4 separate regions of the Homo sapiens genome follow, and all the other regions are linked to region 1. Evidence: fine-mapped expression QTL. A gene starts in region 1. Each other region holds a variant in brackets. All regions are shown on one strand. Distances are between the middles of the regions. Region 1 holds the start of TRIM35 (tripartite motif containing 35). Region 2 overlaps STMN4 (stathmin 4). Region 3 overlaps STMN4 (stathmin 4). Region 4 has its middle 1.9 kb from the start of STMN4.

The links.
Region 2: its variant is fine-mapped to the expression of TRIM35 in whole blood (INTERVAL, PIP 0.99).
Region 3: its variant is fine-mapped to the expression of TRIM35 in spinal cord (GTEx, PIP above 0.99).
Region 4: its variant is fine-mapped to the expression of TRIM35 in hypothalamus (GTEx, PIP above 0.99).

What each region holds. Positions count from the first base shown.
Region 1 is chr8:27,309,666-27,312,349 of GRCh38, reverse strand. It overlaps TRIM35 (tripartite motif containing 35), which reads left to right and starts at 1,078. Exons shown (of 6, transcript NM_171982.5): 1 at 1,078-1,549. The coding sequence starts at 1,115. It also overlaps a transcript of PTK2B not described here. RefSeq lists a silencer at 860-1,069 and enhancers at 1,220-1,369, 1,380-1,599, 2,000-2,109.
Region 2 is chr8:27,235,457-27,238,140 of GRCh38, reverse strand. It overlaps STMN4 (stathmin 4), which reads left to right. Exons shown (of 7, transcript NM_030795.4): 7 at 1,236-2,684. The coding sequence ends at 1,295. Among named protein-coding and RNA genes, the nearest start is that of STMN4, 22 kb to the left of the region's middle. RefSeq lists enhancers at 679-1,179, 1,180-1,680. The variant C/A (reference allele first, on the strand shown) is at 1,043.
Region 3 is chr8:27,243,801-27,246,484 of GRCh38, reverse strand. It overlaps STMN4 (stathmin 4), which reads left to right. Exons shown (of 7, transcript NM_030795.4): 2 at 2,684. Among named protein-coding and RNA genes, the nearest start is that of STMN4, 13 kb to the left of the region's middle. The variant T/C (reference allele first, on the strand shown) is at 978.
Region 4 is chr8:27,258,989-27,261,672 of GRCh38, reverse strand. No RefSeq gene overlaps it. Among named protein-coding and RNA genes, the nearest start is that of STMN4, 1.9 kb to the right of the region's middle. The variant G/T (reference allele first, on the strand shown) is at 1,463.

The DNA.
Region 1 (2,684 bases):
AGAGACAAGAATTCTGTCTTCCAGGGCTATTCAATGCAGAAACATCCTTGAAAAGATAGTTGGAAAAAGGCAGTCAGTGCCTCTGCTCTCTCAAGACATGCAGGAACATGACACATGTGAATTGTCTCCCAATAGAAAAGGAATGAAAGTGCATCGTGTGAAAAGTATTCTGCATCTGGAGGCTGTAAAGTGATCAAACTGAAGCAGGAATGAAGATCTGAAGGAACCATCCAGGCCTACTGTACCTGGCAAGAATTGAGCATGAACTCTAGTTATCTCAGCTAAACTTTGCAGAAGTCCTCAATTTCACTGTTTTAATGGGCACTTGCCCATTAAAACAGTGGTTGTCATGAGCACTTTCCACATTTATTTCACTTTATCCTCACACTTCATGGAAACAGAGCTATTACAGCCATTGTACTCATGAGTAAATGGACTTTGAAACATGATGACCTGTTCACTTTTTCAACCACAGGACAAGAATCAGGTTTTCTCGGAGCTCTTCTGCCGCCACCCCTCTCTTGTTTCTCCTTACCGCGGCGGGCCAGAAGAAGACTGGCCAAAATAAGTAAACGACTAATGCAAGAGTGGCATAGGTCCTCAAAAAGGCGCTGCAAACTTAAGTGGTGATTGCACTCACGGTGCTTTAAGACCCAGCCACTACTTCGGAAGCAGGAAGTTGGCATCTCTGGTTTCTCCCATCCGCGGGCCTGAGGTTCCCGGGGATTGGTTAAGGTAGAGGCTCCTTTTCCCATTTGCAGCCGGAAGTAGGTTTCCAGTAACACGGAAGCCCTACTACGCCGCCTGGGAGACCCTTCCGTGCTACCCCGGCCAGGGACCCGCCCGGACCTGAGGAGGCGGGAACTGCGGGCAGAAGGCCCACCCCGCTCTCCCAAGATTTCCCGCGCACACCGGAAGTGGGTGGGGCTCCTCCGAGCGCCCCCTCCCTCCCCCTCGCCATCCCCCCCGCACGATTGGCCAGCGCCGCTGTCTCTCAGCGTTCCAGGGGAAGGGACTGGGCGATTCCCAGCACTCGGGTCGCGGGCGTTGGCAGCCGGGCGGGTGGGAGGGGCCGGAGCAAAAGTTCCGGGCGCCCGAGCCGGCTGCTCGTGCCATGGAGCGGAGTCCCGACGTGTCCCCCGGGCCTTCCCGCTCCTTCAAGGAGGAGTTGCTCTGCGCCGTCTGCTACGACCCCTTCCGCGACGCAGTCACTCTGCGCTGCGGCCACAACTTCTGCCGCGGGTGCGTGAGCCGCTGCTGGGAGGTGCAGGTGTCGCCCACCTGCCCAGTGTGCAAAGACCGCGCGTCACCCGCCGACCTGCGCACCAACCACACCCTCAACAACCTGGTGGAGAAGCTGCTGCGCGAGGAGGCCGAGGGCGCGCGCTGGACCAGCTACCGCTTCTCGCGTGTCTGCCGCCTGCACCGCGGACAGCTCAGCCTCTTCTGCCTCGAGGACAAGGAGCTGCTGTGCTGCTCCTGCCAGGCCGACCCCCGACACCAGGGGCACCGCGTGCAGCCGGTGAAGGACACTGCCCACGACTTTCGGGTAAGAGCAGCGATTTGCACGAGGCGGCCGAGCCGGGTCTGGAACCCGGAATCCCTTGGCTCTGCGGCTCCCGCCCCTCCTGCCTGCCAGAGCCCAGTGTGCCCGCGTCTCGCTCCCAGCATGCAGGACCCCACCTCTCCGACCCAGGTTCTCAGGGCTGGCTGCTTCTTCAAGGTCGGCCCAGGGGCCCGTGCTGGGAGAAGAGAATGCGAACGGAAAGTGACAGATGAGGTTACATGATGTTCCCAAGACAGCGACACTTGCTTCTGAAGGGCCCAGGCCATGCACCCCTTGTGCCAGCCGGGTGTGGCCCAGGTCCCTTTAAGCGGCACGGATGTGGGTGCAGCCCACGAGCCCTGTAGCTTGGCACACTCAATTTAGAAGTGGAGGAGGAGCCACAGACCTGGCCAGGGGTGTGGAGTCTTAAGATTTCCCCCAAACCAGTCACCTACTTGCCAAGCTGATCCCGCGGTTTGTATTATCTGAGTGAGAGGTCTCTGACCCTGGCTGGCTGGCCTATTCTGGTTTATAAAGCAGCATCTCCATATCTAGAGTTCTAGTGACTATACATAAACCCAGGAGCAACTTACAGGGCAAAACTAACATGGAGAATTCTTTGATATAGGAAGGAAAAATGAATAGAAGATAAGGGTTAGCCTAACTCAGCATTTTCCAAAACGTTTAATCTTAGCCCATAGGAAGCAATGCATTTTCCCTTGTGACCCAGAACATATGTATCAGTTGAAACAAAAGTTTTCTGAACATGTCCATGGCACTCTGATATTTTCTGTTACTTCCCTTTGTTTTTTTTTTTTTTTGAGACCTCTATCGCCCAGGTTAGAGTGCAGTGGCGTGCTCTTAGCTCACTGCAACCTCCGCCTCCTGGGTTCAAGCGATTCTGGTGCCTCAGCCTCCCGAGTAGCTGAGATTACAGGCATGTACCAACACGCCTGGCTAATTTTTTTTTTTTTTTAATTTCTAGTAGAGGCAGGGTTTCACCATGTTGGCCAGGCTGGTCTGGAACTCCTGGCCTCAAGTGATCTGCCCTCCTCTGCCTCCCAAACTACTGGGATTACAGGCGTGAGCCACTCCGCCTGGCCTCTGTTACTTTTAAAAATTACCCAGAATGTGAAAC
Region 2 (2,684 bases), 74 kb after region 1:
CTGATACATACCAAAGTTTGGGAACCCCTGCCCTGTGCACACCACTCCTCACTCCTAGGCCACAGAAAGTTCTAGGGTGTCTGCAGGGACAGATTCGTAGTTTATAGTTTATCCTGAAAACCTGGGGGCCTCCGTGGGTCTACTTCAGGCTGATTCTGTCATCTGGATGTGACAGTGCCAGGCTCTGGGAGGGACAACATTGGTTGAGTGCTTGCCATGTGTAAGGCACCATAGTAGAAAAGATAATGTGGTCCCTACCCACAGGAAAGTCACCGTCTAATAGAGAACTGTCTAATAGAGAATCTGCACAGTGAGCAGGTGAACACTAAACATCACAACTTGAGGGGTGAAAGACCACCTGTCTATGCCCTTCTCTTTAAAGATCAGAGAACTGAGGCCTGGTTGGAGAAGTGAGCCAGCCAAGATCCTCCTGCAGATGGGCCTTGGAAGGCAGATGCTATCTTTTGGCTGCACTACCCTGTGAAATAAAAGAAGGTTCTCTTATAATAGGTGTAAGAAAGTCCACTTTTTGGAGTTGGGCAACATTTTCAAAATTCTTCTGTCGATTTGCACTTTAAGAGTCCACACCTGGGCACGGTGGCTCACATCTGTAATCCCAGCACGTTGGGAGACAGAGGTGGGAGGGTCATTTGAGGCCAGGAGTTAGAGGACAGCCTGGGCAACATAGCAAGATCCCATCTCTATTTTTGTTTAAATAATAACAAAGGAAAATCAAAGAATCCTCATCTTTCACCAAGAGGGTTAAGGCAATTCTCACAAAGGAGATGGATGAGAACTAGAAGCAGCAGGCAGGTGCATGTGATTTGTAGGGGATGCTTGTAGTGAGGCCTGTCTGTTCTGCCTGCTCCTCTGGCACAAATTACCCCCAGCAGCTCCTTATATTAAGTCAAGCCATATGATCTAATCCAAACCACAGAATGGCCAGGTGAGGGAGGGGGAGGCTGCGTGGCCCATGGTCACTGTAAGGTGGGCCCCTGCTGCAGTTTGACACCCACAGGACCCTGAGCTCCCTGGGGCAGCA[C/A]CAGTAGGCTTGCCCCCTGCCTCCTGCCAGCCTCACCTGCCACCTTCTGCCCCTCTCGGGATGCCTTTGCAGACAGAGCTCTTCGCTGCCTGTGGTGGCCACTCTTTGCTTTTGGTTCTCTTGCCCCTTGGCCTCCCTTTTTGTCCCCGGGCAGCCTTGTGTGACCTGCCCTTTTCCCTCCCTTCCTTTCCAGGACAAGCACGCCGAGGAGGTGCGGAAAAACAAGGAGCTGAAGGAAGAGGCCTCCAGGTAAAGCCTAGAGGCCAAAGAACTTTCCAGGTCAGCCGGACAGCTCCAGCAGCTCCACGTTCCAGGCAGCCTCGCCCGCCGGCTGCGCTCCCAGCACTGGGGTTTGGGGGGAGGGGGGTGGCCAAGGGGCGTTTCCTCTGCTTTTGGTGTTTGTACATGTTAAGAATTGACCAGTGAAGCCATCCTATTTGTTTCCGGGGAACAATGACGGGGTGGGAGAGGGGAGAGGAGAGAGTTTGGGAAAGGGAGATGGAGAAGAACTCAAGGACATTGCAACCCTGCCCGGCGCAGATCTGATTTTCACATCTCTACCTGGACATTGAGCCTCCAGGCACCATGTTGAGGAGAGATGAAAACCAGGGCGGTAGAACTTCAGGGTGAAGGACAGAGTCCTGGGTGGGGCAGCGGCTGCAGGGCGCACCAGAGAACCCAGCCAGAGGGGTTGTGAGTACCAGTGGTGTTGCTTCCACCCTGCAGCAGGTGGGATGAGGTCTGTGTGTGTGTGTGAACCATCATTTTTTGATCATCATGACCAATGAAACATTGACTCCAAGTGTCCAGTTCTTTATTTCCCAAATGTGTCCTTTGGGTAATTGTTAAAAAGTTCTCGAAACCTGGCTTTCATCCATCTGATGGCAGATGCCCCTTTGCTTCCTTAATTCTGCCATTCAAGCATCTGGAGCCTGGGTGAGGTGGGTTGAATCAGGCCAGCCTTTGGCATAATTGAAAGGTTTTCTCTTCTGTTTTTTAAAATCCCCTCTGTGGGCTAATCTTTATTGGATAGCATGCACTAAATTGATGAGAAAAGAAACTCAATCTTCCTTTCAATGAACTGACATCCTAATATGGTCCCCAAGATGCACTGTAAGAAGGAATTTGTCTTAGTCACAACCGTTCAGACTGCTGTAACAAAATACCTTAGACTAAGTAATTGATAACAGAAATTGATTGCTCACAGTTTTGGAGGCTGGGAAGTCCAATATCAAGGTGCCAGCAGATTCAGTGTCTGGTGAGGGCTTGCCATCTGCTTCAAAGATGATGCCTTTTTGCTGCATCCTCACATGGCAGAAGGGAAGGGCAAAAGGGCTTCCTTGAGCCTTTTCTTTAAGGCACTAATCCCATTCATGAAGGTGGAGTCCTCATGATCTCACCTCTTAAGGCCCTATCTCTTAATTCTGTAGTGTCGGGATTAGGATTCAACCTGTATATTGGGGGAGACAGCAACATTCACACCATAGCAGAAGTCCTCCATGCTTTGGGGGTTTGAGATTCTAGGTAGATTAGAAAATACGAGCAAGGAAATAAAGTGTTTGCTAGTAGAAGGCAAAGGAGGCATCCAGACCCAGCAGTCTTGGTCTCCAGGACACTGAACCATGGCTGGAAAAGAAGCTCT
Region 3 (2,684 bases), 66 kb after region 1:
GAATGGCCTTGAAAAGGCACTTAGCTTCCCTGAGCCTCGATTTCATTCTCTATAAAATGGGGATAGTAATTCCTGCCTTACGAGGCTATTACGAAAATTAAAGTGAGTTTGTCACATAGCAGCTGCTCAGTAAGCACACATTTTTAACACTGAGAGGTCTCCATTGCAAATCCCTTGATCATGACCATGCATACCTCTGCCCACCTCTACAACATCTCGTTTCTTGCCCTGGTTTTCCTTTTCTGGCTTTCTGACCTTCTCTGTGTTCCTAAAACTCCTAGCCCATTTCCTTCCATGTAGAAAGCACTTACCACATATTTTAAAGTTAACTCATATCCCCAGGCCAGGCTGGCTTTCTGTGAGTCCTCAGGACCATAGAGAAAGCATTAGTGAGTATCTAGTTCTTCCACTGGTTACAATGGAAGAGCTTACAAGTCGAGAGACCTGGAGACTAGACCCAGCTCTGCACCCTTAGAGCTGTGTGACCTTAAGCAAGCGTCTGAACTTCTCCAAACCCCAGGTTCTTCATCTGAAAGCAAAGCTGATGATGCCTGTCTTGTCAGCCTAAGCCAGCTTCATGCAAAGTTAGACTAGGATAATGTGGTGGGTGTCGAGTGCCCCCTGAGCACAGGGTCCTATCATCATTTCTAGCTCGGGCTGGAGGCACATTCCATAACTCCAACTGCCTGCTCCTACTCCATCTGCCTTCTTTCTCAGGCATCCCTCTCTGCCTCCCCTCCACCTATTCAGGCTTCCACTTCTGATCCTTTCCCCAGGTAGAAGTCCAAGGCCACTGCCACTCTGGCAAGGGCTTACTAACTCTGCCAGTGACTTGTCAGTCAGCCTGGCCATGAGCAGAGACTGCGGGATGGGGTGTCATGACCAGGGAAGTCGCATGCAGGCACCAGGCCTGCCTCTCTGTTCAGGGACTCACTGGTGCCGTCAGGACCAGCTTAGTTCTGCAGAGAGAAGACCCA[T/C]TGTGCTGCAATGACAGGGGCCTCTGGCTCCAAAGCACAACAACAAGAACAAGGAGAACAAAGCAGTTTAAGTCCAGCTGGACCTCGGTTCAAATGGGCACTCTAACTTGCTAGCTGCATTGCCCTGAGCAGGCACATAAACCCTCTGAGCCTCAGTTTCCCCATCCGCACATGGCAACAACAGTCCTTACTTGTGGGTCCAGAGGTAATGGCTCTGAAGCAGGCATGTGGCACCTGATAGCTGTCCTGATGCAAAAGACAGGGCAAAGAGACTAACATTTATTCAGTGCTTCCTGTCTGCTGGATGCTATGCATGGGTTTTTCTCATTTAATTTGTACAGCTCTGTGCAGGATTAAGATGGAGAAAGAGACTAGCGAGAGCTGGTAAGAGAGGTGATACTTGTATTTGACCCCACACTGGTCTAGCCCTAAAGCCAGAGCTGAGTTCACTGCCCCATTACCTCCTCCTGCCAGTCTCCAGCCAGCACAGAAAGGCAAGGGGTTTGAAGTGGGTCTCAGAGTCTCTTTGGCTGGCAAGGATGTAGGCAGTGAGCCTGCTGGCTCTCGCCACCCTCCCCTGGCACAGTGACCACAGAGGGTGACCGAGGATCAAATGGTCCTGAGGATGGCCACTCACTGCTGGCTGCTCCTCACTCTCTTTGTAGTAGCCTTCATGGGCTCCCATCACCTCCACCCCTCTGATCCTCCCAGATCTGCTCCTTCCCTGACTCTCCTGTTTTGTCTCCTGCCCCGCCCCCTCCTCTTTCCACTTTCTGATCTAGCGTCAACTAGCTTGACCTGATCCCACGGACACTGAGTGGCGTTCTCACCCCGACCCTTGGCCGTGATGTTCCCTTGCACAATGCCCTCCTGCCAGCTCCTGTCTGATTCTAACTCATCCTTCAAGGCACTGCTCAGGTGCTACCGACACCAGGGACACCTCCCAGGCTCCCTGGCAAATGCTGGGGGTGTGGAGCCCTATTTCTGTGTCCCACAGCAATTCCTCATGCTGATTTCTGGTGGTGTGGAGCCCTATCTCTGTGTCCCACAGCAATTCCTCACGCTGATTTCTGGTGGTGTGCTGGCTGGCCCTGTGATGACGACATGATTCCTTAATGTTTTTCTTTCCTGTGTCCCGGATTGTCTTAAATAGGGTCAAACACAGCTTAGGTCAGTCGTCTTGGGAAAGGGAAGGTGAGAGGCATCTGAAGAGGCCTGTTAACATCCTATGTCCAATTCCCTCTCTTCCCATATCAGAATTGGCCCAAAGACTTCTGGGGCATGTGCGGGGAGAAGTCCAGGACACACAGTTATTTTATGAATGCCTCCCAGCTGATTCTGCAGGAGGATTTGCTTCTCACCCTAACCCTTGAATTGGGCCAGGTTCTTGAGCTATGGAGGGAGACAGATGAGCACCCCTTGATCCATACGTTTTTGGGAAACCCACGCTTGCATGTGCTAGGGGGCTTGAGACTGGAAAGCCAATTATGAAGTATCATTAGTTCATGGAATCTGAGCTTGTTTAGCATCATTGTGGGAGGGAGGTCGGGGTAGGGGACCCCCAGGGAGAGTTGGTGGGGAGAGGGCCTGGAGGAAGAGCAAATGAGGTACCCCTGAGATTCCCTCCCCAGTGTATAAAGACCTTTCTTATGAGAATAACCTGTCTAATCCATCGATGGTAAAATCCTGTCCTCCCCTTTTCTCAGG
Region 4 (2,684 bases), 51 kb after region 1:
GTGTGGCCTCTCCTGTCTCCACATGTTGAGGGAATGACTTTCTGATATCCTTAGTTGTCCTGATTCCCACTGAAAAGGCTCAGCTTGATGGCTGAGGGTCCTGGGTTGGTGGCATGTGGCATGAATGATAAGTGTGTTGTTCAGTGATACTCACTGAATGTCAAACAGCACAGTGTTCGTCCTGCCGTCCTTGCAGCCCTGCTGAAAGGATTACACCATAGATTCAGCTCTGGTGTGCTTTGAAAACCCCAAAGGCTGTCAGGGCTCATTCCTCATCCTGGCCACCGCTTGGCCAGGGGCTGGCAGCCTAACTGGAGCCCTCCCCTCTGGATGTGAAGTGGGGGCTTGGAGATGTGTGTCTACATGGGGCCTCCTGGAGAACCACACGGGGTGCTGTGGTGAGATGCCAGCTTGCAGGTCCTGGCAGTGGGGTGCAGGTCAGGGGTTCATGCCAGGGCTTGAGAATCTACTTAATCCCCAGCACAGTCTGCAGGGTGAACATGTGACATCCATGCATTAACTATGATTTTCAAATGCTCATTGATGCTACTGTAGTTTAAAAATAATAACTTCAAAGCATGGGCTGAATTCAAGGCAACTTTTGTCATTATTCGTGTTCTCAGTCAATAGGGGTTTGGTGGTAGAGGGTGAACAAACCCTCCTAAAATAGGGTGAGGTGCCAGGCGTGGTGGTTCATGCCTATAATCCCAGCACTTTGGGAGGCCAAGGCAGGTGGGAGCCCAGGAGTTTGAGACCAGCCTGGGCAACATGGTGAAAACCTGATTCTATAAAAAATTAGCTGGGTGTGGTGGCACATGCCTGTAGTCCCAGCTACTGGGGAGGCTGAGGTGGGAGTATCACTTGAGTCTGGGAGGCAGAGGTTGCAGTAAGCCATGATCACATCACTGCACTCCAGCCTCAATGACAAAGCAAGACTTTGTAAAAAAAAAAAAAAAAAAAAAAGGAGGGAGGAGCAAGGTGATGGAATTATCACACATGCTACAACATGGATGCTCCTTGAAGACATGCCAAGAGAATGAAGCCAGATACAAAAGGACAATACTATTTGATTTCACTGATACGAGGTGCCTAGAATAGGCAAATTCATAGAGACAGAAAGTAGTTTGGGGTTAGCTGGAAAGGAGTGTTATTGCTTACTGGTTACATATGAATATTGGGGAACATGCCAAAGTTCTGGAGATGGAAAGCTGTGATGGCTACACAGCAATGCGTGTGCACTTGAGGCCAGTGAGCTATACACTTCAAAATAGTGAAAATGGTGAGCGTTATGTTGGACATGTTCAGCCTCAATAAAATTACCCCTCCCCGGCTGGGCGTGGTGGCTCATGCCTATAATCCCAGCACTTTGGGAGGCTGAGGCAGGCAGATCACGAGGTCAGGAGTTCAAGTCCAGACTGACCAATATGGTGAAACCCCATCTCTACTAAAAATACAAAAATTA[G/T]CCAGGTGTGGTGGTGCGTGCCTGTAGTTCCAGTGACTCAGGAGGCTGAGGCGGGAGAATCTCTTGAATTCGGGAGGTGGAGGTTGCAGTGAGCCGAGATCACGCCATTGCACTCCACCCTGGGTGACAGAGCGAGACTCTGTCTCAAAAAAAAAAGAAAAAAAATTACCCCTCCCCACCAAGAAGAACACATGAGGCAAGGCTGGACGGTGGAATGTGGGGATGATGGACACATCTTGGGGGGATTTAATCTGGAGAGGTGTTCTGGAGGAGGGGGTCTCGCTCCACAGCTGCCTGGCTCCTCTCCTGCCTCACCCTGCCCTCTCCAGCTCACTGGCTGAGGGCAGCAGCCTGTGAAGGTTATGTTAGTGGCTCCCTCATTCCCTGAGGGAACTACAGAAGCCACCATCGCTGACCCGTCACCCCCCCTCAAGATTCCACCATATGGAAATGTAAACTAGTACAGTCACTATGGAAAACAGTGTGAAAAATTTTTAAAGAACTAAAAGTAAATCTACCATTTGATCCACCAATCCTACTCCTGGGTATCTACCCAGAGAAAAAGAAGTTATTGTACAAAAAAGATACTTGCACATGCATGCTTATAGCAGCATGATTCGCAATTGCAAAAATATAGAACCAGCCCAAATGCCCACCAATTAACAAGTGGATAAAGAAAATGTAATACACACACACACACACACACACACACACACACACACACACACCGTGGAATACTACTCAGCCATAAAAAGCAATGAAATAATGGCATTTGCAGCAACCTGGGTGGAATTGGAGACCATTATTCTAAGTGAAGTAACTCAGGAATGGAAAACCAAACATCATATGTTCTCACTCATAAGTGGGAGCTAAGCTAGGAGGGCGCGAAGGCATAAGAATGATACAAGGGACTTAGGAGACTTGGGGGAAAGAGTGGGAGGAGAGTGAGGGATAAAAGACTACTCACTGGGGACAGCGTACACTGCTCGGGTGATGGTGCACCAAAATCTCAGAAATCACCACTAAAGAACTTATTCATGTAACCAAACACCACCTGTTTCCCAAAAACTTACTGAAAATTTTAAAAAATCCACCATATTTGGGAATCACCAGTGTAATGACCAGTCCATCTTCCTACCTGTGGCTCCCTCTGGAAGGCCCAGGAGGGCTGGATGGGAGGGGCAGTGAGGACCCACTAGTGTCAGCAGAGATGTGGCTGATA